2 linked regions of the Homo sapiens genome follow. The protein of the gene in region 1 interacts with the protein of each later gene in a pairwise test. Each region holds a gene or a part of one and is shown in the gene's direction. Other genes may lie near its edges. The genes, in order: GADD45B and MAP3K4.

What was found.
Region 2: the proteins of GADD45B (region 1) and MAP3K4 interact in binary tests that used the Homo sapiens proteins (3 or more experiments, as listed by UniProt).

The regions. Positions count from the first base shown.
Region 1 is NC_000019.10:2,466,609-2,482,592, forward strand, and holds GADD45B (growth arrest and DNA damage-inducible protein GADD45 beta), read left to right. Parts: upstream 1-9,518; 5' UTR 9,519-9,750; coding exon 9,751-9,794; intron 9,795-9,920; coding exon 9,921-10,022; intron 10,023-10,420; coding exon 10,421-10,643; intron 10,644-10,879; coding exon 10,880-10,993; 3' UTR 10,994-11,649; downstream 11,650-15,984.
Region 2 is NC_000006.12:160,989,051-161,005,239, forward strand, and holds the start of MAP3K4 (mitogen-activated protein kinase kinase kinase 4), read left to right. Parts: upstream 1-2,718; 5' UTR 2,719-2,881; coding exon 2,882-3,033; exon of another isoform or gene 3,034-3,292; intron 3,293-16,189. UniProt on the Homo sapiens protein: Component of a protein kinase signal transduction cascade. Activates the CSBP2, P38 and JNK MAPK pathways, but not the ERK pathway. Specifically phosphorylates and activates MAP2K4 and MAP2K6.

The DNA.
Region 1 (15,984 bases):
GTCCAGCCGAGAAAATTATAACAGTAGGCTAAACTAACTAACCCCCATCTTGCCTTAATTATTCCTGGGCTATTGGGCCCAGCTAACTTGGGAAGACATTTAGGCTACAGTTTAAGTGATAGTAGACCTTGCACAAAACCCAACAGCTTTTGTCAAGCTAACCTGAGGCCTTCAGGTTGAGGGAGGAGGGGAGCCTGACATCTGTTAAGGTGCAAACGTTATTCTGGAGGTTATAAGATATGCAGCTTCCAGGCCAGGTGCGGCGGCTCACGCCTGTAATCCCAGCACTTTGGGAGGCCAAGGCGGGTGGATCACTTGAGGCCAGGAGTTCAAGACCAGCCTGGCCAACATGGTGCAACCCCATCTGTACTAAAAATACAAAAATTAACCAGGCTTGGTAGCCCATGCCTGTAGTCCCAAATACTTGGGAGGCTGAGGCAGGAGAATCGCTTGAACCTGGGAGGCAGAGGTTGCAGTGAGCCGAGATCTCACCACTGCACTCCAGCCTGGGCGACAAAGCGAAACTCAGCATGCAAAAAAACAAAAAAAAAACAAAAAAAAAACAAAAAAAAAGAGATGTGGTTCCCCCAATTACTCCTGCAAATAACACCATTATTGTAGTTTGGCCTTTTGAGATGTCTTTCCACGTGTTTTGCATGTCTGACACCCGTGGCTCCACCTGGACTGACAACCCTGCTCCTGAGGTTCCACACAGAAGCGATCTGGCCGGCAGGAGGACCCCTGCAACCTGCTGTGAGTCCATCTCTGCCCCCAACCAACCAGCAGCAAGCACCTGTTTACCTGGCCCACTCCCACTCCTTCCCACAAAACTGCCCTTGAAAAACCCCTAACCTAGGCTGGGCGTGGAGGCTCACGCCTGGAATCTCAGCACTTTGGGAGGCTGAGGTGAACGGATCACCTGAGGTTAGGAGTTCGAGACCAGCTTGGCCAACATGGTGAAACTCCATCTCCACCAAAAAAAAAAAAAAAAAAATTAGCTGGATGTGGTGGCGTGCACCTGTAATCCCAGCTATTCAGAAGGCTGAGGCGGGAGAACCTCCTGAACCCAGGAGGCAGAGGTTGCGAATTGCTTGAACCCAGGAGGCAGAGGTTGCAGTGAGCTGAGGTGGCGCCACTGCACCCCAGCCTTGGTGACAGAGCGAGACTCGTCGCAATAAAGAAAAACCTCTAACCTATGAGGTTTGAACAAGTTGATTTATGAATTCCATCTCCCACGTGGCGTGGCCAGCCTCATGTCTATTAAACTCTTTCTCTACTACAATGCTGTGGTCTCTTTCTCTTTCGTTGTTTCCTTTCTTTTCTTTTTTTTTTTTTTGAGACAGTCTCACCCTGTTGCCCAGGCTGGAGTGCAGTGGCTCAATCTCAGCTCACTGCAATCTCCGCCTCCCGGGTTCAAGCGATTCTCCTGCCTCAGCCTCCCGAATAGCTGGGATTACAGGCGCCCGCCACCACTATGCTCGGCTAATTTTGTATTTTTAGTAGAGACGGGGTTTCTCCATGTTGGCCAGGCTGGTCTCGAACTCCCGACCTCAGGTGATCTGCCCACCTCGGCCTCCCAAAGTGCTGGGATTACAGGTGTGAACCACCGCGCCCAGCCTCTATTTTTTTTTTTTTTTTAAGTAAAATACTTTGTTAGACTGGGGGTCTCCCTATGTTGCCCAGGCTGGTCTCAAACTCCTGGACTCAAGGAATCCTCCCACTTTGGCCTCCCAAAGTGCTGGGATTACAGGCGTGAGCCCCTGCACCCAGTCACGTGGTCTTTCTTTATGCAGTGGGCAGGAAGAACCCCTGCATAGCGGGGTGTGGTGGCCCATGCCTGCAATCCCAGCTATTTGGGAGGCTGAGATGGGAAGATTCCTTAAGTCAGGAGTTCAAGGCTGCAGTGAGCTGCGATGTCACTGCATTCAAGCCTGGGCAATAGAGCGAAGCCCATCTCTAAGAAAAAAAAAAAAAAAAAAATTAACCACCCTGGGGGATCACTGGAGCCAGGCCCGAAGCTGCCCACCATGCTAGCATTGTCTGCAATGCCTGCTGCCGGGGGTTCCAGCTGTTCCGATGTCTGTGAGCAAGTGTGTAAGTTGTAAAATACTCAGTGCAAGGCGAATGATTCCTGTCCATTGTGTAGCAAGAAATTTTGCCTCGACCAGAGAGAGATCTGGCTTTTGTTTCAGCCACTGGGAGGTGACTCTTAGGCCCCAGGAATGTCCTGCCTGATGGATATACCGTTCTGTTTTTTTTTTTTTTTTGAGACAGAGTCAGAGTCTCACTCTGTCTCCCAGGCTGGAGTGCAGTGGTGCGATCTCAGCTCACTGCAAGCTCCGTCTCCCGGGTTCAAGCGATTCTCGTGCCTCAGCCTCTCGGAGTAGCTGGGATTACAGGCGCCTTCCGCCACACCCAGCTAATTTTTGCATTTTTAGGAGAGAGGGGGTTTCACCATGTGGGCCAGGCTGGTCTCGAACTCCTGACCTCAAGTGATCCATTCGCCTTGGCCTCCCAAAGTGTTGGGATTACAGGTGTGAGTCACCGCGTCCGGCATTCGAGTGGCTTTCGAGGTCACTACAGTAGGGGAGGTGTACGGAGCACTTTCTATGCCAAGCCCATTCTAGGTCCTTGTTTTGGGTAAACATTTCCACAACCTGACTTTTCCCATGAAAAGAGGGAGTTTCAGGGAGGCTAAGCCACCAACCCAAGGACACACAGCTGATGACGGCTGCAGGTGGGATTTGAACCAGGCAAACGTGACCTCAGACAGAGCCTCTCCTTCTCCCTCTCTCTGCGAGGCATAGTCCCAGACCTGCCAGCCTCTTGCTGTGCACAGTTTCCCTGCCCCTCCCCTGCCACTGTCCTCAGAATTTCCCAAATGTGCCTCAGCCTTCGCCGTAGCCTCCGCTGCCACCTGGCGTGGTGATCCCACCTCCTCCCACCCCAGGCCTGTCTTACAAATGTCTGCAAGTTCAAATGATGACTCAGCTCCATCCCGAAACCTCTCCTTGGGGACAGGAGTCATGTCTTGCTCGTTTTGTTCATCTTTGCAGAAAAACATGATGTCAGAGCCCAGCCGCTGCCAATCACTTCCTGGCTACATCCGGAGTGACACGCAGACCCCTCCCCGCAGCCCCCAAAGCCCGTCTCTGTGAGCTCATCTTCCCGGCTCTCCCTCTTGCTTACTCTGTTCCACCCCCAGGGCCTCCTTGGGATTCCTCAAATGCAACAGGTGAGGTCCTGCGTCAGGGCCTTTTCAAACACTGTGCCTGCTGCCTGGGACCTCTGCCCCCAGAGCCCCTTGAACCTGACTTTTTACCGTTTTTTTTTTTTGAGACAGAGTCCTGCTCTGTTGTCCAGGTGGGGTGCAGTGGCATGATCTCGGCTCACTGCAATGTCTACCTCCCAGGCTCAAGTGAGTCTCCTGACTCGGCCTCCTGAGTAGCTGGGATTACAGGCATCTGCCACCACGCCTGGCCAACTTTTTGTATTTTTAGTAGAGACGGGGTTTCGCCATGTTGTCCGGGCTAGTCTCGAACTCCTGACCTCAAGTGATCTGCCCTCCTTGGCCTTCCAAAGTGCTGGGATCACAGGCATGAGCCACTGCACCCAGCCCGCCCCCACTTTTTTTTTTCTTTTTGAGGCAGGGCCTTGTTTTGTCGCCCAGGCTGGAGTGCAGTGGTGCGATCATAGCTCACTGCAGCCTCAAACTCCTGGGCTCAAGTGATCCTCCTGCTTTAGCCTCCCGAGTAGTTGGGACTACAGGTGTGCCCATCAGACCTGGCTAATTTTTAAAAAATTATTTGTGGCTGCGTGCGGTAGCTCACACCTGTAATCCCAGCACTTTGGGAACTCGAGGCGGGTGGATCATGAGGTCAGGAGTACGAAACCAACCTGGCCAAGATGTGAAACCCCATCTCTACTAAAAATTAGCCGGGCGCAGTGTAATCCCAGCTACTTGGGAGGCTGAGGCAGAAGAATCACTTGAACTCGGGAGGCAGAGGTTGCAGTGAGCTGAGATTGTGCCACTGCACTCCAGCCTGGGAGACAGAGAGAGACTTCGTCTCAAAAAAAAAAAAAAAAAAAAAGGCCAGGCGTGGTGGGTAACACCTGTAATCCCAGCATTTTGGGAGGCCGAGGTGGGCGGATCACGAGGTCAGGAGATCGAGACCATCCTGGCTAACACGGTGAAACCCCATCTCTACTAAAAATACAAACAATTAGCCGGGCGAGGTGGCGGGCGCCTGTAGTCCCAGCTACTCTGGAGGCTGAGGCAGGAGAATGGCGTGAACCTGGGAGGCGGAGCTTGCAGTAGCCGAGATCACACCACTGCACTCCTGGGTGACAGAGCCTGGGTGACAGAGCGAGACTCCGTCTCAAAAAAAAAATTATTTGTAGAGATGGGAGTCTTGCCAGGTTGCCCAGGCTGGTCTCGAACTCCTGAGCTCAAGCGATCCTCCCCACTTGGCCCCCAAGGGGCTGAGATTACAGGCATGAGTCTACCCTTAGAGACAGAGGCTGCACGAAGTCATGATCACACCACTGCACTCCAGCCTGGGCAATACAGGGAGACCTTGTCTCAAAAAAGAAAAAGAGAAAGGAACTAATCTCATTAGAAGACTCCACTCTCATGAGCTCATCTGACCCTAATCACTTCAAAGCCCCCCCGCAACACCGTGCCCAGCCTGCAGTACGTTTTTTTATTTTTTATTTTTATTTACTTATTTTTTTGAGATGGAGTCTTGCTCTGTCACCCAGGCTGGAGTGCAGTAGCGCGATCTCGGTTCACTGCAAGCTCCACCTCCTGGGTTCACACCATTCTCCTGCCTCAGCCTCCTGAGTAGCTGGCACTACAGGCGCCCGCCACCACGCCCGGCTAATTTTTTGTATTTTTAGTAGAGACAGGGTTTCACTGTGTTAGCTGGGATGGTCTCGATCTCCTGACCTCGTGATCTGCCCACCTCAGCCTCCCAAAGTGCTGGGATTACAGGCGTGAGCCACCACACCCGGCCACATTTTTTTTTTAACTCTGAATGAATGCAAAAACCTCTATGCTGGATAAAATTTTAAAAATTTATTTTGTTTAAAGCCAAATACGGTGACTCACGCCTGTAATTCCAACACTTTGGGAGGCCGAGGCAGGCAGATCATTTGAGGTCAGGAGTTCGAGATCAGCCTGGCCAACATGGCAAAACCCTGTCTCTACTAAAAATACAAAAAATTAGCTAGGTGTGGTGGAGGGCGCCTGTAGTCCTAGCTACTTGAGAAGCTGAGGCAGGAGAGTCACTTGAACCCAGGAGGTGGAGGTTGCAGTGAGCTGAGATTGCGCCACTGCACTCCAGTCTGGGTGACAGAGCGAGATTCTGTCTAAAAAAAAAAAAAAAAAAAAAGATTATGACAGGATTACTCATACTGATTATTCCTCTCACCTCAGGCTCCAAGATGGCCTCGGCGACACTGTTATTGATCTCATTTTTTATTTTATTTTATTTTTAGACACAGGGTCTCCCTCTGTTGCCCAGGCTGGAGTGCAGCGACACAATCATAGCTCACTGCAGCCTCAAACTCCCAGGCTCAAGTGATCCTCCCACCTCAGCCTCTCACGTAGCTGGGACTACAGGTGCGCACCACCACGGTCGGCTAATTTTTAAAATTTTTGTAGAGATGGGGTCTCCCTATGTTGCCCAGGCTGGTCTCAAACTCCTGGGCTCAAGCAATCCTCCTGCCTCGGCCTCCAAAAGTGCTGGGATTACAGAGGTGAGTTCTGGCGCCCAGCCCAAAGATAATAGCACACATTTCCTGAGTGCTTACCTGATTCTGGGAATTTCCTCCTTCAATGCCTGTGATGAAGCCTTTGTGTGACTGTTCCCATCTTACAGAGAAAGAAACTGAGGCTGGAGCTCATTTTCTTTTTTTTTTTTTTTTTGAGAAAGAGTCTCACTCTTGTTGTCCAGGCTGGAGTGCAGTGGCACGATCTCGGCTCATTGCAACCTCCACCTCCCGAGTTCAAGCGATTCTCCTGCCTCAGCCTCCTGAGTAGCTGGGACTACAGGCATGCGCCACCATGCCTGGCTAATTTTTATATTTTTAGTAGAGATGGAGTTTCACCATGCTGGCCAGGCTGGTCTTGAACTCCTGACCTCGGGTGATCCACCCGCCTCGGCCTCCCAACATGCTGGGATTACAGGCATGAGCCACCACGCCTGGCCCGGCTGGAGCTCATTTTCTGAGCTCAAAGGCACAGAGCTCAGAGTCTCTTGAAGATATTCCAAGATACTCCAGATATTCTAAGATGCCTGGAGCCAGGGCTGGAAAAAGGAGGCACAGGTGGGCTTGGGGTCTAGAAAGAGAAGCCTGGAGGGTGGAGGACCATGGGGGTCCAGGCAGTCAGTCTGGGAGAAAACAAGGCCAAGTCAGTGTTGACAGAGGAGTAGGGTTTTCCTGCTGAAGACCAGAGGAAGACAGCATCCCAGGCGGAGGAAACAGCTGACAAAGGCTGGGCCTCTCGCAGAGGAGGTTGTTATGGCTGGCACGGGGGACACACGGAAGAAGGACTTGGACACATATTCTCTGAGGCCCTGCTTTGCTCGCCTTATTTTATTTATTTTATTTGCTTTATTTTTGACACAGTGTCTCGCTCTGTCTCCCAGGCTGGAATGCAGTGGTGCAATCTCGGCTCACTGCAACCTCCACCTCCCGGGTTCAAGCGATTCTCCTGCCTCAGCCTCCCGAGTAGCTGGGATTATAGGCATGTGCCACCATGCCCAGGTAATTTTTGTATTTTTTGTAGAGACGGGGTTTCACCATGTTGGCCAGGTTGGTTTTGAACTCCTGACCCCAGATGATCCACCTGCCTCAGCCTCCCAAAGTGCTGGGATTACAGGCATGAGCCACCGTGCCCAGCCCTTATTTTATTTATTTATTTGAGACGGGGTCTCACTCTGTTGCCCAGGCTGGAATGCAACTGTGCAATCCCGGCTCACTGCAGCCAGGAACCCCTGGGCTCAAGTGATCCTCCTGTCTCAGCCTCCGGAGTAGCTGGGTGCACACAACACACCCCATTCTTTCTTTCTTTTTTTTTTTTTTAAAGACTGAGTCTCACTCTGTCACTCAGGCTGGAGTGCAGTGGCACGATCTCGGCTCACTGCAATCTCGGCTTACTGCAACCTCTGCCTCCCAAGTTCAAGCAATTCTCCTGCCTCAGCCCCCAGAGTAGCTGGGATTACAGGCATGTGCCACCACGCCCGACTGATTTTGTATTTTTAGTAGAGATGGGGTTTCTCCAGGTTGGTCAGGCTGGTCTTGAATTCCCAGCCTCAGGTGATCCTCCTGCCTCAGACTCCCCAAGTGCTGGGATTACAGGAGTGAGCTACCGTGCCCGGCCTTTTTGTTTGTTTGTTTGTTTGTTTGTTTGTTTTGGGGAGGATGGAGTCTCTCTCTGTCACCATGCCATGTGCAGTGGCATGATCTCGGCTCACTGCAACCTCCACCTCCTGGGTTCAAGTGATACTCCTGCCTCAGCCTCCTGAGTAAGCTGGGATTACAGGCGCGTGCCACCACGCCCAGCTAATTTTTGTGTTTTTAGTAGAGACAGGGTTTCACCATGTTGGTCAGGCTGGTCTCGAACTGACCTCACGATCTGCCCGCCTCAGCCTCCTAATGTGCTGGGATTACCCAGCCTGCAATACTTTTTAAAAATCAAAATCAATGCCCAAGTATCCATGAGGAACAAAATATCAAAATTGTAAATAAAGACAGAATCTGACTTTGCACTTATCCCACCCACCTCCCTGATCTTCCTTATCTTCAGCTCATGTTGGCCATGTTGGTCAGGTTGGTCTCGAACTCCTGACCTCAGTTGATCCGCCCGCCTCGGACTCCCAAAGTGCTGGGATTACAGGCGTAAGCCACCGCGCCCGGCCGATTTAACTTTTAAATTGAAATTATAAAATATAAATATGTATGTTGCATGCGTAAAACATTGCATAAAGTTACATAAAACGTTGCAACCGCCACGGTCCCCTTATCCCCCGCCTCCAGCCCAGTGCCCCGCCCGTCCGTCCCTCTCTTCCGGCGCTGAGGGCGCAGAAACTCGGCGCGGCCACCAGATGGCGCCACCGCGCCTCGCAGCCCCGGGACATTTCGTGCCCCAGCGGTGGGCGGCGCGGAGGAGGTGGGATGCGTCAGCCGGACCCGCGGGCCGGGGAGCCGGGCAACTGGGGAAAGTGAGCCGCCGGGCGGAGGCCAGACCCCAGGCTGGCGGGGGAGGGGACTCAGATGTGAGTCACCCGGGAGCCCCCAGTCGACCGTGGGAGACGTTGTCATGCGGGGCCTGCCAGCCTCGCTCCTGAACAGCCTTCCCGGGGCGGCGGAGTCCTGCAGGCGGCCGTGCCTGGCGCACACGCGTGGCTCCAACACGAACTAGCCTATGGCCTCACCAAGCCTCAGTTTCCCCTTTTGCATAATGCACATAAGCATCCCCCCTGCTTCCCAGGTCTTGGATTAAATCATCCATGAATCCGGAGGGGTGGGGGGTACCAGGTCCGCACCACGCACTCAATGCAGGTCAGCGCCCACCCCGGAGTGAGAAATAAAAGTAGCCGTCATCCTTGCACGTGGGCCCTGGGTGGCGGCGTGCAGCCGGAGCCTGCACCATTCCCCTCAACAATGGCTTTCTCCAGGGCCTGGAGGCCTCCGCACGGGCAAAGGCTGGAACGCCAGGCAGCCGGCGGGGGCGGGGCCGCGCCACCTGCACCTCCCACGCGCACCCCACCCTGATACTCGCGGGGTCGGCGAGGAGGCGCCCACTTTCTTCTCCAGAGCGCCCCGGGCTTTGCAACCTCCCACTTTCGGGGCCCTCGAGGAGGCCTCCCGCGACCACCAGGTGACAGCTGATGTGTATTGGGCTCTTACTGTCAGCCGTATTTTATGCCATGCTCTGCAAACCAGCGAGGCCGGCGCTGCAGACCCATTACTCAGACGGGAACAGAGAGGCCGGGAGAAGCGAAATCACCCAGGGGCTGGGGTCGTCGCAGCCAGGAGAGACTCCGGCCCTCACCACCACCTGGGCGAGATCACGCTGCAAACGGGGCCCCTTCCCGGTGCAGCCCCTCCACCCCCAGCAGAACTTGGGAAAGGCGCGGTCCGGGACTCTCCGCGGATCGGGAGGGGATTCCAGGCCCCCCCGAAAGTCCGGGCCGCCTCGCGCGCTGGAAATCCCGCGCGCGCCCCGAACCGCGGCTCGGCTGCCGGGAAATCAGGAGAAAAAAACTTCTGCTTTTTTTTCTTTTCTGGCATTCGCGGTCACCTACCCGGCCCCCGCGCGCCCTCCTCCCGGTTCTCGCCCCCACGTGGGGCGCCCCCGCACGCCGCTCCTCCCCCTCCCCTCCGTCGGCCAACCGCAGAGCTAGCTGCACTCGCCCTTGTCTTTCCACCAATAGGAGGGGCGAATGACTCCACTGAGGCCACGCCCAATGTTCAAGTCTATAAAAGTCGGTGCCGGAGGCTCCCAGCTCAGATCGCCGAAGCGTCGGACTACCGTTGGTTTCCGCAACTTCCTGGATTATCCTCGCCAAGGACTTTGCAATATATTTTTCCGCCTTTTCTGGAAGGATTTCGCTGCTTCCCGAAGGTCTTGGACGAGCGCTCTAGCTCTGTGGGAAGGTTTTGGGCTCTCTGGCTCGGATTTTGCAATTTCTCCCTGGGGACTGCCGTGGAGCCGCATCCACTGTGGATTATAATTGCAACATGACGCTGGAAGAGCTCGTGGCGTGCGACAACGCGGCGCAGAAGTAAGTAGCCGGGGCTGCCGCCGCCTGAGGTCAGCCGGGACGGGATGGGTCGGGTTGGGCCGGGCCGGGAGCGGAACGTAGCACCCGGTGGTCCGCCCGTCACTGATCCCTCTTTCCTGGTCTCAGGATGCAGACGGTGACCGCCGCGGTGGAGGAGCTTTTGGTGGCCGCTCAGCGCCAGGATCGCCTCACAGTGGGGGTGTACGAGTCGGCCAAGTTGATGAATGTGTGAGTCAGACCCCCTTCCCGGGCTGGGCGCGGGTGGGACGGGACCTCCCCTCCGCTCTGGACGCTTTCCGCACGCTTGTCTTGCATGGAGCTGGGACTTCCCCAAGTGCCCCCCGCTGTGGATGCAGAGCTTCTCTGCCGTTTTGTGGATCGGGGGCTGCCGTATCCTGATGTATCGTCTGCAAACACCCCTCCCGCCGTGGGCCTGTCTCCCCCTACCCCATACTTTGAACCGTGTGCCCTCCCCTCCCCCCACCGTCACCAGCTTGCAGAGGCAATCCCCTGCACCCTTGCAGTTTCTCTTTTGCTCTTGCACGCTCCTTTTTTGCAAACTCCCCCTGCACGGTGGCCCCTCCCCTGTCCCCGGCTGACCCATCCCTACCCTTTGGCCCCCTCAGGGACCCAGACAGCGTGGTCCTCTGCCTCTTGGCCATTGACGAGGAGGAGGAGGATGACATCGCCCTGCAAATCCACTTCACGCTCATCCAGTCCTTCTGCTGTGACAACGACATCAACATCGTGCGGGTGTCGGGCATGCAGCGCCTGGCGCAGCTCCTGGGAGAGCCGGCCGAGACCCAGGGCACCACCGAGGCCCGAGACCTGCATTGTCTCCTGGTCACGGTGAGTCGGGCCTCTGCCCTGCCCCGCCACGCCCGGGCACCTGGGCCGGTGTTTGTCAACAAAGTCGGGCTGACTGGTCCTGCACAGCTCAGCGCTCAGCCACGTTTGGCATGTCCCGTGGGCAGCCGGGCTGGGGCCTCCTCACCCAGGAAGCTATTTTGAGCCTGACTGTTTTCCCCACACAGGGGCCCCGGGAGAGGGAGGCTCCACTAAACCCCTTCTTTTCCCTCCTACAGAACCCTCACACGGACGCCTGGAAGAGCCACGGCTTGGTGGAGGTGGCCAGCTACTGCGAAGAAAGCCGGGGCAACAACCAGTGGGTCCCCTACATCTCTCTTCAGGAACGCTGAGGCCCTTCCCAGCAGCAGAATCTGTTGAGTTGCTGCCACAAACAAAAAATACAATAAATATTTGAACCCCCTCCCCCCCAGCACAACCCCCCCAAAACAACCCAACCCACGAGGACCATCGGGGGCAGAGTCGTTGGAGACTGAAGAGGAAGAGGAGGAGGAGAAGGGGAGTGAGCGGCCGCCCCCAGGGCGGAGATCCAGGAGCTGGCGGCCGCCGATCCGATGGAGAAGGGGGGACCCAGGCCAGCAGGAGACAGGACCCCCGAAGCTGAGGCCTTGGGATGGAGCAGAAGCCGGAGTGGCGGGGCACGCTGCCGCCTTCCCCATCACGGAGGGTCCAGACTGTCCACTCGGGGGTGGAGTGAGACTGACTGCAAGCCCCACCCTCCTTGAGACTGGAGCTGGCGTCTGCATACGAGAGACTTGGTTGAACTTGGTTGGTCCTTGTCTGCACCCTCGACAAGACCACACTTTGGGACTTGGGAGCTGGGGCTGAAGTTGCTCTGTACCCATGAACTCCCAGTTTGCGAATTATAGAGACAATCTATTTTGTTACTTGCACTTGTTATTCGAACCACTGAGAGCGAGATGGGAAGCATAGATATCTATATTTTTATTTCTACTATGAGGGCCTTGTAATAAATTTCTAAAGCCTCTGGTTGCTTGTATGTTTTCGGCTTCTAGAACAACTAGGACCCCTGCCCCCTCCCCGGGGACACGCTTCACCCCCCACAACCCCCGCCAGCTCACCAGGAAGTGTTACTTAAGCCCCTGTTAGCAGCTCCAGGCTCCCGTGCAGAAACAGTACCCCTTCTCTCCGCAGCAGGCGCCGCCACCGACTCCAACAAATCTATGCCTCTTTTTTTTTTTCCTTCTCCTCCTACCCTGCAGCAATTAAGAGACCGGTTTATTACGAAACCTGGCCGCCGTGCCACCACTGTTACTGGCTGTGCAGGAGCCAACCCCAAGCTCTGGGCACATATGGAGGCATTTCAGCGGGAGGGGGTGCTGGCTGCAGCCCCTGACCGCCTAGGCGGCCACCGCAGCCCAAGGTCCGGATCGGTCAAGGGGGCACCTGGTACCACACAGCGAGGTGAGCTCAGGGCTTGCAAGGAAGAGCGCTTTTGGAGGCTTCCCCAGGGAGTGCCCCCCCAGCCCACCACAGCCTTCTCCATCCCAGGATAGGCCTCTCTTTTGCACTAAAGAAAAAAACTTTTTTTATTTCCGCAAACTAAAATCAACAAGCAGAAAAATACCCCAGGAAGTCGGCCTCCGGGCCAGCCGGGCTTGGCGCAGTGCTGCGTTTTGCCTGTAAACCGAAACTGCGAGCCCTGGCCAGCCACCTCCTACTTCTCCCAAAGTTGCAGGCGCGGTGGTGACTCCCCCTGCCCCGGGCTGGGAGCGTGGCCCAGCCCTTCCGTGCCCGGCCTCAGTCTTCCCGCCCCGGGTCTGCAGAGTGGGCCCGCCCTGGCCAGGCGCCGGGACGACCTCGGTTCCCCTCTGCCCTGCAGCCCCCAAGCCTGGGAACTAGGGGGGAGTGGGGAGGGGGTGGGGTGGTCCTGCCCGCAGGCCGCGACCTTTCCACGGAGCCTCACGTGGGCGCATGAGGAAAACCCCAGCGGCTCCCTAGGAGTCACGGGGATCGGGGGAGCCCCGACGGGGGAGGGAGAGAGAGAAGGAGGGGGAAGTCCCAGAGGGAGAAGCGGGGAGGGGAGAGGATCCCGCCTGGGGCTAGGAGGAGGGGAGAACTGAAGTGGGGAGAGGGGAGCCCAAGAAGGGGAAGGGGAATCCCCCACAGCCCTGAACCAACAGGGAAACCCCGGGAGGGGGGTAGACAGGTAGGAGTCCCGAAGGGGTTGGGGGAGGGGAGAATGGAGGCGAAGAGGCGGGAGCCCCGAGGGGGTAGGGGGTGATGGAGTGGGGATCCCTGAGATGGAGCCCAAGAGGGGAGGGCACCTGGGAAGAGTGACAGAGGGCGAGGGGCTCTTGAGGGATTGGGGTGCGGGAGAACATGTGGGGCCAAAACCCAAGGGGGCTCCAGGTGGGGAAGGACCAGGTGGGGCAAGGGTGCGCCTAGCGGCGGCCTGGAAAAGCTCTGGCTTTTCTTTTTCTTTCTTTTGAGACAGTCTCACTCCATCGCCCAGGCTGGAGTGCAGTGGCACGATCTCGCCTCCCTGCAGCCTCCACCTCCTGGGTTCAAGCGATTCTCCTGAGTAGCTGGGACCACAAGGACCCACTACCACACCCACTAGTTTTTGTATTTTTAGTAGAGATGGGGTTTCACCATGTTGGCCAGACTGGTCTCAAACTCCTGACCTCACGCCCGACTTGGCCTGCAAAATGCTGAGATTACAGGTCTGAGCCACCGCTCCCAGTCTCTGGCTCTTCGTTGGTCAACCTCGTAGGGTAGGGAGGCGAGGCCAGCTCGGAGGGCTATGCCCCCGGGGATCGGATGGTCTGTCTCCATCCGGATTGTTCCATTCTTGCTCCTCGGTCTCTAGAACTGTGCAGCAGGATCTCAGGCTCCTGAGCCCCAAGTGGAGACAGGGCATGGAGGGGCCCCAGTGGTGGGACCCTCAGCCAGGACCTTCACCTGTCTGTGCCTCAGTTTCTCCCTCTGAAAAATGGGGGATAATGCTACCTAGCTCATAGATTGTTGAGGAGGTTAAATGATATATAGATTCCTGGGCCGGCCCTGTGGCTCACTCTCTGTAATCCCAAGACTTTGGGAGGCTTGGGGGAGGTGGGGAGGAATCCCTGAACCCAGGAGTTTGAGACCAGCATGGGCAAACATAGAGAGATCCAGATCTCTACAAAAAAATTTAAAAATTAGCTGGGCATGGTGGTGTGGGCCTGTGGTCCCAGCTACTTGGGAGCCTGAGGCGGGAGGAGCACTTGAGCCCTGAAGATTGAGGCTGCAGTGAGCTGTGATGGCACCACCACACTCCAGCCTGGGTGACAGAGTGAGACCCTGTCTCAAAACAAACAAACAAACAAACAACAGACCCTGAAATATAGATTCCTTGACCGGCTTCCTTCAATGTACTTCCAGAATCATGGTTTTTTTTCCCCAATTTTTAAAAGATCATTCATTTAAAAATTTTAGATTTAGCTGGGCGTGGTGGCTTATGCCTGTTATGGTTTGAATTGTCTTCCCCACAAAAGATGTGGAAGGCTGGGCGCAGTGGCTCACGCCTGTAATCCCAGGACTGTGGGAGGCCGAGGTGGGCGGATCATGTGAGGTCAAGAGTTCGAGACCAGCCTGGCCAAGAGGGTGAAACCCTGTCTCTACTAAAAATACGAAAGTTAGCTGGGTGTGGTGGCGTGCACCTGTAGTCCCAGCTACTCGGGAGGCTGAGGCAGGAGAATGGCGTGAACCCGGGAGGCGGAGCTTGCAGTGAGCTGAGATTGCGCCACTGCACTCCAGCCTGGGCGACAGAGAGAGACTCCATCTCAAAAAAAAGAAAAAAAAGAAAAGAAATAGGGTCTCACTATATTACCCAGTCTGGTCTCAAATTCCTGGCCTTAAGTGATCCTCCAGCCACGGCCTCCCACAGTGTTGGGATTACAGGCGGGAGCCACCGCGCCCGGCCCTCTCCTATTGTTAGTACTCTTGCAGTTGTTATTGTTGTTGTCATTTATGAAAGTATTCCACGGTCTCCCTGACCGAAGCCAGGGAAGTACAGGAACTGGCTTTGAAGGATGCTGTTTCATTGAATTAATAATAGCAGCTAGGTTGATTCAGTCTTCTCTGGGACTCAACTGTAAACACCTATAAACTTACTGTGGCCCCGTGAGGAAGATGCTGTTGTCCCATCTTCCCAAAGAAGAGACTGAGGCTCAGAATGGAGGAGCCACAGCCTGGCTAGGAGTCTTGAATTGTCGGTGTCTGGCTGGTCAGTCTCTGGGGAAAACTCTGGGTTGAGAGGACCCGGGGGATGCAACACCCCCAGCTCCCCAGACCCCTTCAAGTTCACGCTGGGTCAGGAAGGAGTAGTCACAGGGCACCAAGCCTCAGTCAGCTGGCACGGGCCGTTCTGGGCTCCCACACTCAGGACTGGATGCCAGGATACATGTGTGTATTCCTTGGACGACGGTGAGTGGAAGAGTTGGCAGTGCCCACCGCAGGTTGCAGGCAGACACGCTTCCCAGGCCGGACTCGTGAAGTTGGGTGCGTGCTCACCCCAGGGTGCCCACGATGGCCTGTGTCTGAACCTACACTCACAGGCTGAAACGCATACACACGCTCACACCCCGCTATGCAGTCATATTCACAGCTGGAGACATGGACATGTTCACACGCACGCACACACATACTGCATGCCACGGACACAGAGTCGCCTGCAAGAGGACACATGAGTCCATAGAAATGCCTCCCATGGCCGGGTGTGGTGGCTCACACCTGTAACCCCAGTACTTTGGGAGGCCAAGGAGGGTGGATCATCTGAGGTCAGGAGTTTGAGACCAGCCTGGCCAACATGGTGCAACCCTGTCTCTACTAAAAATACAAAAAAATTAGCCAGGCGTGGTGGTGGATGTCTGTAATCCCAACTACTTGGGAGGCTGAGACAGAAGAATCGCTTGAACCCAGGAGGTGGAGGTTGCAGTGAGCTGAGATTGTGCCACTGCACTCCAGCCTGGGTGAGAGAGAGAGACTCCATCTCTCAGATGATCCACCTGCCTCAGCCTCCCAAAGTTCTGGGATTACAGGTGTGAACCACTTCACTCGGCCTTATTTTTTAATTTTTTTTCCTTTGAGACAGGGTCTCACTCAGTTGTCCAGGCTGGAATGCAGTGCTGCGATCTTGGCTCACTGTAACCTCTGCCTCCTCAGCTCAAACGATCCTCCCACCTCAGCCTCCTGAGTAGCTGGGGTTACAGACGTGTGCCACCACGCCCAGCCATTGTTGTTTTTTGAGACAGTGTCTCCCTCTGTCATCCAGGCTGAAGTGCAGTGATGTGGTCATAGCTCGCTGCAGCCTCAACCTGCT
Region 2 (16,189 bases), on another chromosome or scaffold:
GACTAATATACTAGCCTTGAAATATGCTAAGGTGTTACAATTATGCCCTTTACATTTATGTACATATATATATATACACACTATATAGAGAGGAAATTTGAGACTTCATAATAGTGGTAGCATATGTCCAAGGTTTTTGAGTGTTTTTGGCAAAGCAGAAAGAACATGCATATGAATATGTAACTGGTTTTGTGTATGTCAAAAATGGGCTTTAAACTCATGGTAAGCAATGTTCTGAATGTTACGTAGCTCAACCTAGACTAGGTCTTCAGTAGAACCTTAGCTTTTTAAACTCATTTCAAAGTAAAGAAATTCCATAAGGGCTATGTGGATTCGGTCTTGAGGACAAAGAGTGAAAGGTAATTCTCTGAAGATTTTGTTGTCATTGTTTTTAACATGATTAGGCTGGGTGCAGTGGCTTACACCTATAATCCCAGGGTTCTGGGAGACTTGAGGCCAGGAGTTCAAGACTAGCTTGGGCAACATAGTGAGGCCTCAGCTCTACCAAAAAAAAAAAAAAAATGTTTAAAATTAGCTGGACATGGTGGTATGCATCTGTAGTCCCAGCTACAGCAGAGGCTGAGGTGGGAGGATCACTTGAGCCCAGGAAGACCCTGTCTCCAAAATAAAAAAAGAACATTATTAAAGGTAATGAGACAATGAGACCAACCATGTGCTAAACAAGAATAAAAATTTAGAGACAAAAATCTAATAACTTAAAAAAAATAACTATTTCATTAATGCAACAATACTTACTGAGTTCTACTAACACCATGTTGGGCACCAGAGACATTTGATCCCTAGGCAAAGGTCAGAAGAAGGAAGAACAGCTTCTTTCCTGAAGGAGCTTACACTATGGTGGAGAAGGCAGAAAAGAAATCTGGGGGCTGTGAGGCGCTCACTGGGAGCCCTGAAGACAAAGTGGGGGCACGGGGTGAGATGAGAGGGTTGTCAGCCAGAGAAACAGCTTTCCTGGACCCAGCATGGGGGTGGGGCGAAAAGTCACAACACTTATATTGAATATTTAGTACCAGTTAACTTAGGTTTCTATACATGATGCATTACTTGATTAGGTAAGTGTAAATTTACTTGGTTCCTGCTAAAATACATAGTATCCTCAAGTGGAAATTAAAACACAAGAACAAGCCACAGGTCTCCCGCATGCTGATTATATTTGCTAAGTGTTTTGTGACTTGGACACACGTGTCTGCATTATCAGCTAGCTTAAATTCGGTAGTCATACCAAAGAATACGTAGTACAATGCTGTTTAAAGAAGAGATTTATTTTATTATTTAACTTTTAAAGTCTCTAATATGCCTTCTAAGAAGGGTTCTGGCTCAGAAAATTGCAGAAGAAAATCGAGTAGAGAACTAGAATTACAGAAACCTAAGAAATACTTTTACTGAGCTTTCTTCACACAAGAAAATGCACGGAAATGAATTATACATGGATACCAATTTGTGATTTTTAAAAATTTGTAATTTTTTAAATTAAGATAAAAATTAGTTTATTTTTTTGAATACTTTTTTGTTTTGTTTTACCTCACCCTTTACTAAGCTGTTAGCTTGGTCTGTTGCGCTTACTGCTATATCCTCAGCATCTAGTACAGTTCCTGACACATATATGCACTTAATAAGTATTTGTCAAATGAATATTATTGAGTAAATAAGATGAAGGTCAATTCAGAAATTCAGCACTATCAGGCTATATACATAATACAGACTATTATAAAAAACTAGAATGGAGCAGTTCCTTTTAACGACGGAGAAATGTCAGTAACATACTTTGAGCACAATATAGCTAATTTCACAACTGGTCTTTAAATATAACATACCTATAATCAATTTAATGTTTTTCTTTGTTACCAGAGTTGTTCAAAACGTGCGTTTCACCTATCAAAGCTCAACTAAATGAGGTTTAAGAAATCTGCACATTTGAATGTACTTAATTTTAAAAGATTCTGGTTTTGGATTAACTCTGGATTTCACCCTATGGGAAATTTTGTAAATATTTCCAACTTAAAAAAAAACTGTGAAGCCCCAGCGCTAAGAGTAAACGATGCATTGGAATTTCAACAGGATTTCTGTAACTCTGAAATAATCTTTAGCATTTCTTCTTCCCCCCATCCCCTCAGTGTAGGAGCATTCCAGTCCAAGTTTCTGGGAGATCGCTATCGAATCTTATGACACTGGGGTGAGAAGTTTTGCCGGGTTGAAATGAGGGGGTCACTTTAATAATCTGGAATTCCGGAGACTTTATGTCAAGTCTTAAAAATTCGAGCCTGTGGAAGGCTGCGCTGTCAAGAGACCGGAGTTGCGAGCGTCTGGGTGACGTCCGTCCTCCTGGAAGGTGGGATCCGGGTGGCAGGTCCCTGGGCGGCGACTCCGGCCGGGCTCATAGCGTCGCGCCCGCCCCGCTCATCGGCCCTACCCAGCGTCCCTCCCAGACCGACGACCGCCTGGGAAGCCTCGAGCTCCCAGCCCGCTGCACAGCCCGGCTCCGCTCCACAGTCCCCCACTGCCACCGGCCGGGGCGACACCGGGCGAGCTGGCGAGACCCGGCTCCAGGACCGAATCGCGCCGACACTTGACGGCGCTCCCCGCCCCTCCCTGCCGCCGTCTCCGCCCCCGTCCGGTCGCATTCCGGCGCCCGCCGCCGCCGCCGCCACCGCCGCCGATCTGGGAGGCTTGTCCCTCGCCGCCCACCGTAGCCCCGGCGCTCGGCCGGTCGCCGTTTCCAAGATGGCCGCGGCGCGCACGGCTCCTGCGGCGGGGTAGAGGCGGAGGCGGAGTCGAGTCACTCCCGCACTTCGGGGCTCCGGTGCCCCGCGCCAGGCTGCAGCTTACTGCCCGCCGCGGCCATGCGGGGCTCCGTGCACGGATGAGAGAAGCCGCTGCCGCGCTGGTCCCTCCTCCCGCCTTTGCCGTCACGCCTGCCGCCGCCATGGAGGAGCCGCCGCCACCGCCGCCGCCGCCACCACCGCCACCGGAACCCGAGACCGAGTCAGAACCCGAGTGCTGCTTGGCGGCGAGGTGAGTGTGGCGGCCGCAGTCGGTCGCTCGCAGAAAGCGGGGCGGGTCCTGGCCCGAACTCGGTCGGGCCCGAGGGCCTCTGCTTCCCGCCAGGTGGGGAGGGAAGCATCCAGTCTCTGCAGGCTGGGGCGGGAGGGGCGCGGTGCATCCCTGGGTCCCAGGGGACCGCGTCTGAGTCTGTCCGGCGACTCCTCCCGGGGTTGCAGCTCCGCAGGGTTCCGCTCGAGCGTGTTGCCGGCTCCCCTTCCCTTGTAGACTCCCCCAGCTCACCCTCAACGTTGCGGGGGCTGGGAGCAGAGTGCGGCTGCCTCCCCTGCCGCTAGCTTCGGAAGAGTGGCCTCACTGAAGTGCCTCTCATCATTACTGAACGAAAGTGGTCCCTCCCCTCTGCCCTCATTCGAGTAAAAGAGACATTCGGAAATCGAGTGCGTACTGGCTATTTCCCCGCGTTCTCCTCCTCCTCTCCTTTTGCCCGCTCCAGAGAATGCCTGTCATCTCTTCCGTGAGAAATTGCACTTAGACTATGCAGACAGATACGTTGCTTTCCTGTTCTGAGGGCCCCTTACTGTCCTTTAGTGCTAGTATTGTGCAGATTGTTGCTCACACGTGCACAAAAGTAAGGATTCATTTGTCTAAAACTTTGCTACTGCAGGAAGCTCTAAGGTGGAACTTCGGTAACCAAAGCATTTGTTGCTTTTTCTTCCATACTCTATTAACTTATTTTTATGTCTTTATTTTTTTTTTAATTGAGAGAACAAACTCACCATAACTGAGAATTTCCCTCTTTTTACGTGCCTATGTTTGTATGTTCAAATGTCCTCTTACTCCCTGTCCTTTGCATCCCAGAGTAAACTTGCAAACTGCTGCCCCCTGTCCCCTGTAATGAAAATACCTCGGCAGCTCCTCTTGGCATCTTATGGTCTTGCTCTATGGTTCTAGGAATAAGGCAGTAAAGTGTCCTCTTTTTCCTGCTTAAAGAAAATTCACACCTGTAACTGTAGTTAGAACTGAACACAGGAGCCATATTCTTGCTTGTCATCATTCAGTTGGCCCAAACAAATTTGTTTTATTTTTATAAGCTGTGAAGAAATTAGTTGCCTCTTTTAATTCTGAGATAGTTCTGGGTACTTCTAAGGAACAACTTCTCTGAATAATGGTACAGGGTGTAATGAGAATTCCTTTGGTTCCTTTTGAATACATCTAGTATTTTTAGAAATTTTGTCAGAAAGTTTATTATAAATTTGTTAACGGATCAGTTTTCGAGCAATTTTGATACCTTTTTCTTTAAAATTAATAGTGAACACTTAACGGTTAAAATAGGCCATTGTCTTTATTTCTATTAACCCATTTAATCTTTTCAACAACTCTATGAGGTAGGTCCTGTTATACTCTCTTTTTGACAGATGAGGAAACTGAGGCACACAGTTTAAGTATCTTGTCCAGGGTTTCACAGCTGGTAATGAAGAAAGGTCTGGCTGCACAGCCCATGTCTTTAACCACCATGAAGAATTCATTATCCAAATGGGCGGATCAGAAATTAGAATTCTGTATAACCCTACTCCGGAAAGAAATGGACATGAGCATTCTTAGGTAAAAGCGAGAAGGGCAGAGAAATGAAAATGTGCTGCAAAAATGACTGCTGCTTCAGTGGTAAAAAAAAAAAAAAACTTGACTTTTCAGTCAGGCTTCTGTCTGTGTTATAATAAAAATAGGTCAGGATAATGGGTTTCATCCAACTGTAAGTGAACAGCAGTGTACGGAACAAGAAGATCTCAATATTTTTCTTAGCAACATTGCAGTTAATTTTACAATAGAAAAATCTGTAAAACAGATTACTTGACAAAGCTGTTGTTTTCTCTTTTTTATGTCCTCGTTGTCACCACCTGCTCTTCAATACATAGAACTGACCTCTGACAGAATTACTGTAGATCTTTGGTAAAAGATGTAGGGGGTCTATCCAGTTGTTCATTTGAACTTTTTTTTTTAACCATTTTAGAGGAGCTCAGTGTACGTGTTCAAAATGTGTGAAATGCCACCTCTTTTTTTTTTTTACAATTTTCTTTTTTATTTTATTTTCAATAGTTTTTGGGGTACAGGTGTTTTTTGGTTACATGGATAAGTTCTGTAGTGGTGATTTCTAAGATTTTGGTGCACCTGTCACCCAAGCAATGTACACTGTACCAAATATGTAGTCTATTCCTCACCCCGCTCTGAGCCTTCCCCCGAGTCTTCAAAGTCCATTATATCATTCTTACGCCTTTGCATCCTCCTAGCTTAGCTCTCACTTATAAGTGAATACGATGTTTGGTTTTCCATTCCTGAGTGACTTCACTTAGAGTAATGGCCTCCAGCTCCATCCAAGTTGCTGCAGTTGCCATTATTTCGTTGTTTCATGGCTGAGTAGTAGTCCATGGTGTATATATGCCACATTTTCTTTATCCACTCATTGGTTGATGGGCATTTAGGTTGGTTCCATATTTTTGCAGTTGTGAATTGCGAATTGCTGCTATAAACGTGTGTACATGTGTCTTTTTCATATGATTAGTTGTTTTCCTTTGGGTAGATACTCAGTAGTGGGATTGCTGGATCAAATGGTAGTTCTACTTTTAGTTTTTAGGTTTTTTTAGTTTTTTTTGAGACAGAGTCTTTCTCTGTTGCCCAGGCTGGAGTGCAGTGGCGTGATCTCAGCTCGCTGCAACCTCTGCCTCCCGAGTTCGAGCAATTCTCCTGCCTCAGCCTCCCGGGTAGCTGGGATTATAGGTGCCTGCCACCAGGTCCAGCTCATTTTTGTATTTTTAGTAGAGACAAGGTTTCACCAAGTTGGTCAGGCTTGTCTTGAACTCCTGACCTCGTGATCCGCCCATCTTGGCCTCCCAAAGTGTTGGGATTACAGGCGTGAGCCACTGCGCCTGGCCAGTTTTTTAAGGAATCTCCATATTGTTTTCCACAGTAGTTGTACTAGTTTACATTCCCACCAGCAGTGTATAAGAGTTCCCTTCTCACCACATCCATGCCATTGTCTATTTTTTTAATTATTATTTTTAAATTATGGCCATTCTTGCAGGAGTAAGGTGGTATCTCATTGTGGTTTTAATTTGCATTTCCCTGATAATTAGTGATGTTGAGCATTTTTTCTTATGTTTGTTGAAAATGTGTGAAATGCCACCTTTTAATACATTGGAAACCAATAATGTGATAATTTATGCTACCAGGTTAACTGGTTTTGCCACAGACTAGAATAAAACTCTGTTTGCCATCTTTGTCACATACTTTATGTCTGTGTGTCATTGATTAGGAAGGTTGTGTTAATGCACAGGCCTTTTGTAGAATTCAGGCCTGTACATGTTGGCCTCCAAAGCTGTGCAGCAAGTGTGCCATCGTGGCAGGTGCAGCCAGCCCAGCACATCTGCCTAGTGTGTGCTTTCCTCCTGACCCAAGAGTGTTATGCAGTGACCCAGCAACACAAAACAGGCAGAGAGGTCATAGTACTCTATTCCAGTTTTATTGCTTGCTGTCAGTTGTGGATACTTTTGTCCTTATTTTTGATAAAGAATTCATGATAAGGATAGCTGTTGTTATTGTTAGTGATTAAATTTTGAAATAAACATTGCTTATCATTTCTTTTTCAAGCTTCTGGGGCAGTTTTAGGAGGATCCTGAGGTGACTAGGAGAGCTATTAAAACTAATTTGGAACAATTTACCTTTGTGACTTATTGGATCTGTACACCTAAAACACAGAATAAATTGGATATTAAGGCTGATATAATGCTCTTGTTTACTATAACCTTTCATTTAAAATATTTATATTAAAAATAGCCTCATTGTTCTCATTGTCCTTATGAGTACATGCTGCATAAATTTAACAATTAACTTTTTTTAAAAAATGAATTATTTACTTTATATATTTATTGTAAATTCATTTGAAAAACTGGATTTCCTACTAAAAAACTAGTTGAATGTCGTCACTCCTAGGCAATTTGCTCTGCCTCTCGGCTTGAATGTCCACCTTGAGCCTGTGTGTTTCAGTCTTGACCTTGTATGTCAACTGTTCTCCCTGGCAAAGTCAGCCTCCTGTGGTGCTCCAGACTGTTGGTGTAGCATCAGTGATGGTCATGCCTTTACACCACTGTAACAGTAGATGCCATTGGCGGGGGTGGCGTTAGGCAGAGAGGAGTCACCAAACAGCAGTGATGGCAGAAACTTCATGTTTTCAACTGGGGACTTGTCACTTAGGAGGACTTTGTAGTTCCCTTTAATTTTCTGTCATTGTTAGAGGCCACTCTGTTTCCTTCATGTATGCTCTCATGGTGTCCTGCAAATCTTGTTCTGAGCTCTGCTGAAATACGGGGATATAAAGGTCTTGCCTGCTCACTGGATACATTTGTTGTAATAACTTCCTGTTATTTAATAATTCCTCATTCCTCATGACTATGATTTTACTCATAGCATTCTATTGTCTCAGCCTTGTCATTTGACCAGGTAGTATGTATGCTGTTTGAAGACTCTTTAACGTTGCCTATCAGTAGGCTACTGGTAGTGGTTTCTTTAAAGAGAAAATGGAAAACGTGAGAGAAGGAGATTAGCTGAAGACTCCGTAGGTCTTCATAAGCTGGCACTCCCTTGGCACGATAATCAAGGCCCAGACACTCACTGTGCTTGGCTTCTCAGGCACAGATACTCAGCTTTGTCTGTACACCTGGTTAGTCAGTGTATTCTCTTGCTTGTAGAAAGCCAAAGTATAATTAAGAGATTGATTAGTAAGCATGATATTAGCAAGGGAAATGAGTTGAATGATCCCGGTGACTCATGTTAGCAGACCAGTGAGGTGGGCTTGCATCCCTAGCAGGTGCACCCCTGCTTCTGAATGAGAGGCAGTGTGATCCAGACTTACTCTTAGGTTTTTATTTTCTAGGCATCACACAGGCTGCTTTTTTCCCTTGTGTCACAAACTTTCCTAAATTGTTTGGGTTATAGTATGTTTGTTTTAATCTTCAGTCTTTATAACAAACCTTGCTTTTCCTGCTTTAATTTGGGAGTATATTTTATCCTTCTCACTTTAAGATTTCTTTTTTTAAACCTCAGTGGTACGGTACATTTTTACTAATGGTGAGTCTCAGAGGATCACCTTATTGTCTCCATCCCCCACCCAGTATTCTCCCCATAATCTCTGTCCCACCACCCCTCGCCAAGAATCCTTTAGCATAGTTTCTCAGAACAATGTGGCAAAGATGTCAGTGGTTGGTGCTTTCATAAAATTCTTTTTGAATATTGTGTTCAAAAAGGATCATGATGGTATCTGGCTTTTCTGGATTTAAGTCATAAAATTAAATTTTAAAAAATCAGAACCACATCAGAATTCTATCCAGTTATTAAAAACTGTTTTTAAATAGTGTTTAGTGACATGTGAAGATGCTCATGATACAACTCCTTTTGGGGTGGTACCTGAGTAGCTCTTCTTAAGAAGATTCTCAAGTATTTCTGATGTATACATACTCACCGCTGTGTTCAGCAAGAACAAACAGACTATGAAACAGAATTTGCAGAAGATGGGAGCCAAAATTTGAGGTAGTTTTTCATCTCATACACATATTTGTCCACCGGCTGTGTCTGCCCTACTTCACTGTCTTCCTTCTACCTTATTTGGGGGAATTCCTCTCTTGACTCAAACTACATGGTACATATTGGAGCTGCCCTCTTCTTACAGATGCCAGGCCATAGGCATGACACTTGACCCAGTCCAGGCCAATTAGGATTCTTTCCTGGGATTTTTCAAATTGGAGCTGGGAGAGAGAAACGCGCATTTTACTGAAGTATAGGCTGAGAATTCATGAGCCTAGAGCTAGCTTCCTGAAGCTCCTACAGAGGACCTGGTCTCAGAGAGTGATGTTAATCCCCAGAGAAAAGCAGAGAGGCTGAAAGAGGTCTATGGCCAGTTGCCTTTAAAATAAATAAATAAATAAAAATAAATAAAGAGATGGCAGTCTCTGTATGTTACCCAGGCTGGATTCAAACTTCTGGTCTCAAAGAATTCTTTTGCCTTGGCCTCCCAAGTAGGTGGTACTACAGGTGCGCACCACCACACTGTCAGCCAGTTGCCCTTTTGTGCTAGATTTGTCCCTATTTTTCTCCTGATTTGATGTGAGCTAATCTCTATTTGTGCTTAAACTATTAATTTGAGTTAAACTTCTTAAAACCCTAATACTCAGTGTGATCGCATTTTAAAAAGTATGTGCATAGAAAAAAGATATAAAAAATACATACTAATTTTTCCTAAAACTTTTTATGATGAACGTGTTACACATTTTATTTTAAAATAAAAAGCTAATCAGAGAGCCTAAATTCTTAACTAGCTCATTTATAATTTTAAGTTTCTTTACGTTGAATTGTTACTAAAATTGAAATTGATGAGAGTCCATGTGATATAAAGAGAATATTGTTGCCAAATTTTAAATGATTTTATTTATTTTTGGTATCTGAGCTGGCTTATCTGAGCTGGCTGTAGCAAGCTGCTTTTAAAAAACTATTTACTTCAGCTTGGGTAATAGAGTATGTAGATTAGAAACAACTCCAACAGTAACAAAACAAACACAGGACTTACATTAGGGTGGTCTTTTACATTAATAGAAATATTTAAAATCTAGAACTGTGTTCTCAACATGTATATTGTGTTTAAATGCTTTCCCCATTTTAAGCGGTGTACTTGAAATGTCTATATTTTAAAAGATACATTATTCCACTGGCAGTGAGTATGGTAGGTGCATTTTTAGACCCCTGCAGATCTCACACTGTGTAATCGAGTGCCTTTGCCTTTAAATATTTATTCACTAGCAGGCAACATGAAGTTTTGTTTTTGAATTACAAGAACGTTCATGTTTTGCAATTTGCAGACCTACCTCAGCAGTATTGGTTTCATGGGTCATATGGATGCCACGTGTTTATAAATTAGCAGGGAAAGCTATTAAGAATATATTAGGCAGTCTATCAAAAGCATTTCATACATGGATTTCATTTCAGACAAAATAAGCCTTCTGTGGAGAAAAGTAGATACTAAGCTTTAAAGCTGATCAGATTTGATGTTTTCAGTGGAAGCTTTTTTGTGTGTGAGCAGGCTATTTGAAGATACTGCTGAAATGTAGAACTTTCTGAATAGGGCTTGTTAGAGGACAGCTAGTTTAGAGTTGTCAAATTAATAGAAATTGTCAACCTTTTTAGTGTTTCAGTGGGGAACTTTTGGACGATAGTACATTTATTTTATTTAAAATCCTAAAGTCTTTTTATATGGGAACATAAAAATGTAGATATAACTTGGTTTTCTCACACAATTTTTGGAGTTAGTTAGTTGTATCTGTTAAGTATTTAGTTCTTACTCAGATAAGGATTTAAACATTTGCTAATACAAGTTCTTACAGATGGTAGGACGCTTAGTGTTCATTTCATCCAACTTCCTAGCCATTGCTTATAGAATTACAAGAGTTGAGCTCTTATAAGATCATTTGGGCTGTGCGTCTCGTTTTAGAGATGAGAAAAATGGCCTAGAGGGGCTGCAGCTTTCCCAGCTGACAGCTTAGGCTCCAGATCTGCAAGCCCTTCTTCCCTTACCCTCGCATCGCCATGTGCTCCCCTGGTCAAGGTCCAAAGCCAAGGTGTTCTCCAGCCACCTGCCATACATAGCCCAGCTTAAGCCCATGTGCACAGTTACTTGGCAACCGTGAAATGCTGTATTTTCTGGATGAATTGGACTCAACAGGATCAAACGAGATGAAAGATTTGTTTTTAGAAAAAAATGCAAATAGAAAATATGAAATCCTCTTAAAACTCATCATCCACAACGTTTTTCCCCCGTGAAACTTTTATTTCTTGCTCGCAGAATAAAGAAGAGCCAATGCTCAGAAATTTTCAGATACGTTGTTATTTTCAGGCGTCGGTCTGTACATCAAGAAGACAGTAAGATTCTAACTTCTGGTCTGTAGTAGTGGTTTTGAAACTGTGTTTATGGTCGTGACCTACAGTAAGAAATATATTTTATGACAGTGTGTGTGTGCCTTATAACCAAAAGAAAACAATTTTGAAACAGTATTTGACCTTGCAATATATGATACTCAAATAATTCTTATTCTGTTCTATTAAAAATTGTTCATCATAACCTACTAAATTGATTTTATTACCCACAAATAGGTTGTGACCCTCAGTTTTAAAAGCATAGCTCTACCCAAAATAAAATGGATGCTGTTATACTTTGTACCTTGTCCCTTGAGACTGAGTCAGGAGAACAAGTACACTATTTGTCTACTAAATGATCAAATGGAATTTTGAAGAAGCTCGGCAATACTTACTTCTTGAAGACAGCATTGTTACCCGAAGGCAAGAGTAAGAATGTATCTATGCTTGTCTCTCAAGGTTGTTCTCTTGGCTGCTTATCCTTAAACTACAAGAATTGTAAAGATCAGTTTAAAATCTAGGATTAATTTTAGAGTAAAATTGGGATTGGCATTATGTGAATAATTTAGGTAATTTGTTGATCTTTCTCTGAAACAGTAACCTGTGTTTAAAATTTTTCACATAGAGCAGTCCTTAAGAAAAGAAAGGAACTCATTTTCCCCTGATATATATACACACATATATGTGTACACCATATATACACACACATACACACACATATATGTGTACACCCATCTGTATACACACATATGTGTACACCCATATATACACACATGTGTACACCCATATATACACACATGTGTATGCACACATACACATGTGTACGCACATATACACATGTGTACACATACATATATGTATATTATACTATACATATATGTACACACACATATATAGTGTATAATATGCATATATATGCACACATAGTGCATATTATATATAATATACACATATGTATATAATATATATTATATATTATAATATACACATATGTATATAATATATATTATATATTATAATATACACATATGTATATAATATATATTATATATTATAATATACACATATGTATATAATATATAATATATATTATATACACATATATAATACAAGTGTATATAAGTATATATGTATATACATATATATGTGTACACATATATAAGAAATCCAAATCCAAATACTGAAAAATTTACAAAAAATATTTACAAAAATATTTTTATCAAGTTATTAATTATAGGTGGAATCATGTATGTCTCAAGCTATGTGTTATAAATGTTATCAAATAATTCAAACAATATATTTCACATCTATATATTCTGTATATGCATGATATATATGTCATATGTAATCTATGTTAGGGTACAGCAGTTTCACTTTAGGTCTTAAGCATTGCTTACTTTAGGGTCCACCTTGACATTTCCCCCGCTTCCCCCCAGAATAGATGAGATCCTTCTGTTATGTGTCCTCAGAGCCCCTGCAGTTTGCCACCATTTGTAATTATATATTTGTGTACATATTTGTTTATTATGTTTGCCTTCAGTAAACTCCATGAGGGCTGGGGCATCGTCTGTTGTTTTGCTTACTTTTATTGCCTAATTCCTGGCTCGTTGCCTAACAGCAGGTTCTTTGCTGACACTTGTATGAAGGAGGCAGAGCATAGGTTTTGGTAGTAGATAGGCTTTGAATGTTACCTTTTGATTGCTAGCAGTAGGATTGTGGGGAAGTAATTTAGCCTCTCTCAGTCTGTTTCCGCATTTGAAAGGCAAAAATAATAACATCTTCCTAGGTTGTTATTAAGATTAAGTAATTCCTGTTCTATAGTAAGTGCTCAGTATTAGCTGTTTTATTACATTTCTCTTTCTTCCTCTTTTTGGGCTTAAGGTAAAAGAGGCAAATCCTATAGTGATTTTCTTAAAAAGCCACCAAATATGCATTGAGGCTGGATACTTTTAAAAATAGCTGCAATAATCTCCATTCAAGAAACATTTCCCCCCCAACGTCTGCAGAAGCCATAGAAATAAGAAAAAGGTTTTTTTTTTTTTTTTTTTTTGGATCTAGCTTTTCCAGATTCTCTCTCTTACTTTAGTTGTGGTTTATTCTGCATATTATTCCTACAGGTGTTTGGAATTCTGGCTGGCCCTTGGATCATCATAAATCATGCTGCTAAATTAAGAACTGTAACGCTACTGATTGTGATTGTTTAGGTTAATAGGCACAGCTGTCTTTTTCTGTGGAAATTCTTTTTAGTTCATTTAACTTGTGTCTTTATAACTTGGATTAATTTTCTTTTCATTTTTTAAATGTTATACACTGTAAGAGGAATAGTTTTCAAATTGATCTAGCCACTGCCTAAGAAAAATGAATGAAATCTTTTCACGTAATAAAACTAGATTGATCTAGCTACTGCCTGAGAAAAGTGAGTGAAATCTTCTCGCTTAATAAAAGTAACTTAATCAGTTAGAAATTTTCCTGATTATAAAGGTAACCTGTATCTATTATGGAAAACTATGAATCATATAAAGAAGAAAATGACCAATTCTAATTCTGCCATCTAAAAATAGTTTTGGCTTTTTTTTTTTTTTTTTTTTGAGATGGAGTCTCGCTCTGTCACCCAGGCTGGAGTGCAGTGGTGCAGTCTTGGGTCACTGCAAGCTCCGCCTCCTGGGTTCATGCCATTCTCCTGCCTCAGCCTCCTGAGTAGCTGGGACTACAGGCGCCTGCCACCATGCCCGGCTAATTTTTTGTATTTTTAGTGGAGATGGAGTTTCACCATGTTAGCCATGATGGTCTCGATCTTCTGACCTTGTGATCCACCCGCCTCAGCCTCCCAAAGTGCTGGGATTACAGGCGTGAGCTCCCGCACCCGGCCGGCATATTTCTTTTCTGTGTATTTTTTTTATACAGTTTATTTTTACAAGCTGCCATATCATGAGCATTTTCCTATGACAGACAATGGCAAACTGTATTCCTCTAGATGTATATCCCATAATTTAATAGTTTGAATTTGATAACATGATATAACATATGGTTTGTGACATATGATTCCACTTACAATTAGTGACTTGATACAAATATTTTTGTGAATTTTTCACTATTTTGGATTGTTTCTTTAGGATAGCTTCCTAGGTCATAAGATATTTAGAGTTTTAAGGCTTTTGAGAGGTGTTGCTATGTTTCTTTCTAGAAAGGTATTAAGTTATTCATACCAGTGTGAAAGACAAAATGCACTGGATAATTTTATTTACAAAAGCATATTCTAAATTGTAATGAGGTATAGATCGCTTAAGAGGAAAGGGCTCCTTATATATTCAGAAAATAAAACATTAATAACAGCAACAATATTCTCAACAGAATCCACGGTCATCCTTGATTAGTTCATTCAGTCCTGTGTAATTCTTTTTCCACTTGATCTTTAGTTAGCAGTCTCATGAATTTATCTTCTTCTTGATTAGAGTTCTAGAAATCCTGAGTCAGTCCACTGGTATCTTCTCAAAGTTGTTTAAACATTACATCAGAAGACTGTACTGCAAGGTACCTGGCATAGTCCTTTTCCTTGGGTCCCAAGACAGCTCTTCTTTGTTGAAGACAGGCACTGTGGCCTGTAGCTGATTGTAAGTGCTGTCAGGGAAGCAGCAAGGTAGAACGAAAACCTATCTGTAAATGACAAAATAACTTAAAGTGGCTGTGGTTAACTTATTACTATAATTTTCAAAAGTGAAAGATCCAATGAGATTTCATTATAAGAATAAAGCAATTAATAAGGATATTTGGTTGTTTCTTTGTTGTACAAGACAAGATTAAAGTCATTCCAAAATTTTTTTAAACAAAATATTCATATAAACATAAGGATTCTATTTTCAAGAAAGAGTGGCTATTCCATTTTTATAAATTAGATGGAATATCCACTCTTTCTTGAAAATAAGAGTTAATCTTTACTGGGAAATAAAAGTATATAAATATAATTACTGAGAAAAAGAAGTTTAGATATAACATATGATAGTTCTGATATATGCCAACAATATACCAAGCATATAGTTAAAATATACCAAGAATATCAGAGAAAGAGATTCTGTAAGTCCGGAATATGTCCTGAACATCTATCTGTGCTTATTAATGAAACATCATAGGTAAGTAATGTGAATATCCAGTTGAAAACCACTGGCCTGGAAGATACTAGATTCAAATTAAGTTGGGACCAAGTCAACATTTAAAAACAAAGCTGAAATTATGACCCATAATGCTGTGTTGTCTAATATCGAACAAAGTAGCACCAGGACTCTGATAAATAGCAGTGTATCATTGTCAGTGAGAGCACTGACAATTTTCTGTTAACTTCTATAGCAAGCAGAGTCTGAAATATTTACAACATTTTACCTATACACATTTAACCTAGAGAAGGCTAAGCATTTCTTCTGACTTGACAACTCATCAATAACAACATGACAGATAAACCTAATTATTTTCTAGCACTTCTTTTTTTAAAAGGTGAAAGAACAAATCTTTGTGATTGTTTCGGGGACCACCATCTGGGAAATCTCAAAGACAGTTTTAGGTGCAAATGATATTTATGATTTGATTTTGGTAAGGTAAAATATTAAAAGTTGCCAGGAGATTTGAAAACTTCAATTAAGATAGGATCGTGGGTTACCAAGAAATAATAGATGACTTTATATTTAACCCAAGTGACAATAAATATTTTGAAAGTAAACATAAGTGGTAACATGATCGTCAAGAAACTTTCCTGAAGGAGAAACTTGTTCCTTAAATAATCAAGGACATAATAAGTTGGCAGAAACCATAGGTTTTCATAGTAAAACAGAGAATCTTGCTGTTTGTGCAGATAATGTAGAAAAGTAAAGAATAACTTTTACAGTCTATTAAGAGCAAACCAGTAATCTGATAAACATTTGACGTTGAAACAGAGAAAACACGATTTTAGTTTTGTATCAGTATAACATTTGATACTAAAGGTCTTTTTAAAAACCTTATTTAAAACCACCAAACTTATCCAGTCTTGACCATGACAAATAAAATTCCCTTTCCATGAACCTTCTACAACTTTCTGTATTCAAAATGAACACATTCATTAATGGACTCAAGACACAAAAGTATATAAACTTTTTTTTTTTTTTTTTGAGACAGGGTCTCACTCTGTTGTCCAGGCTGGGGTGCGGTGGTACCATCATGGCTCACTGCAGCCTCGACCTCCTGGGCTCAA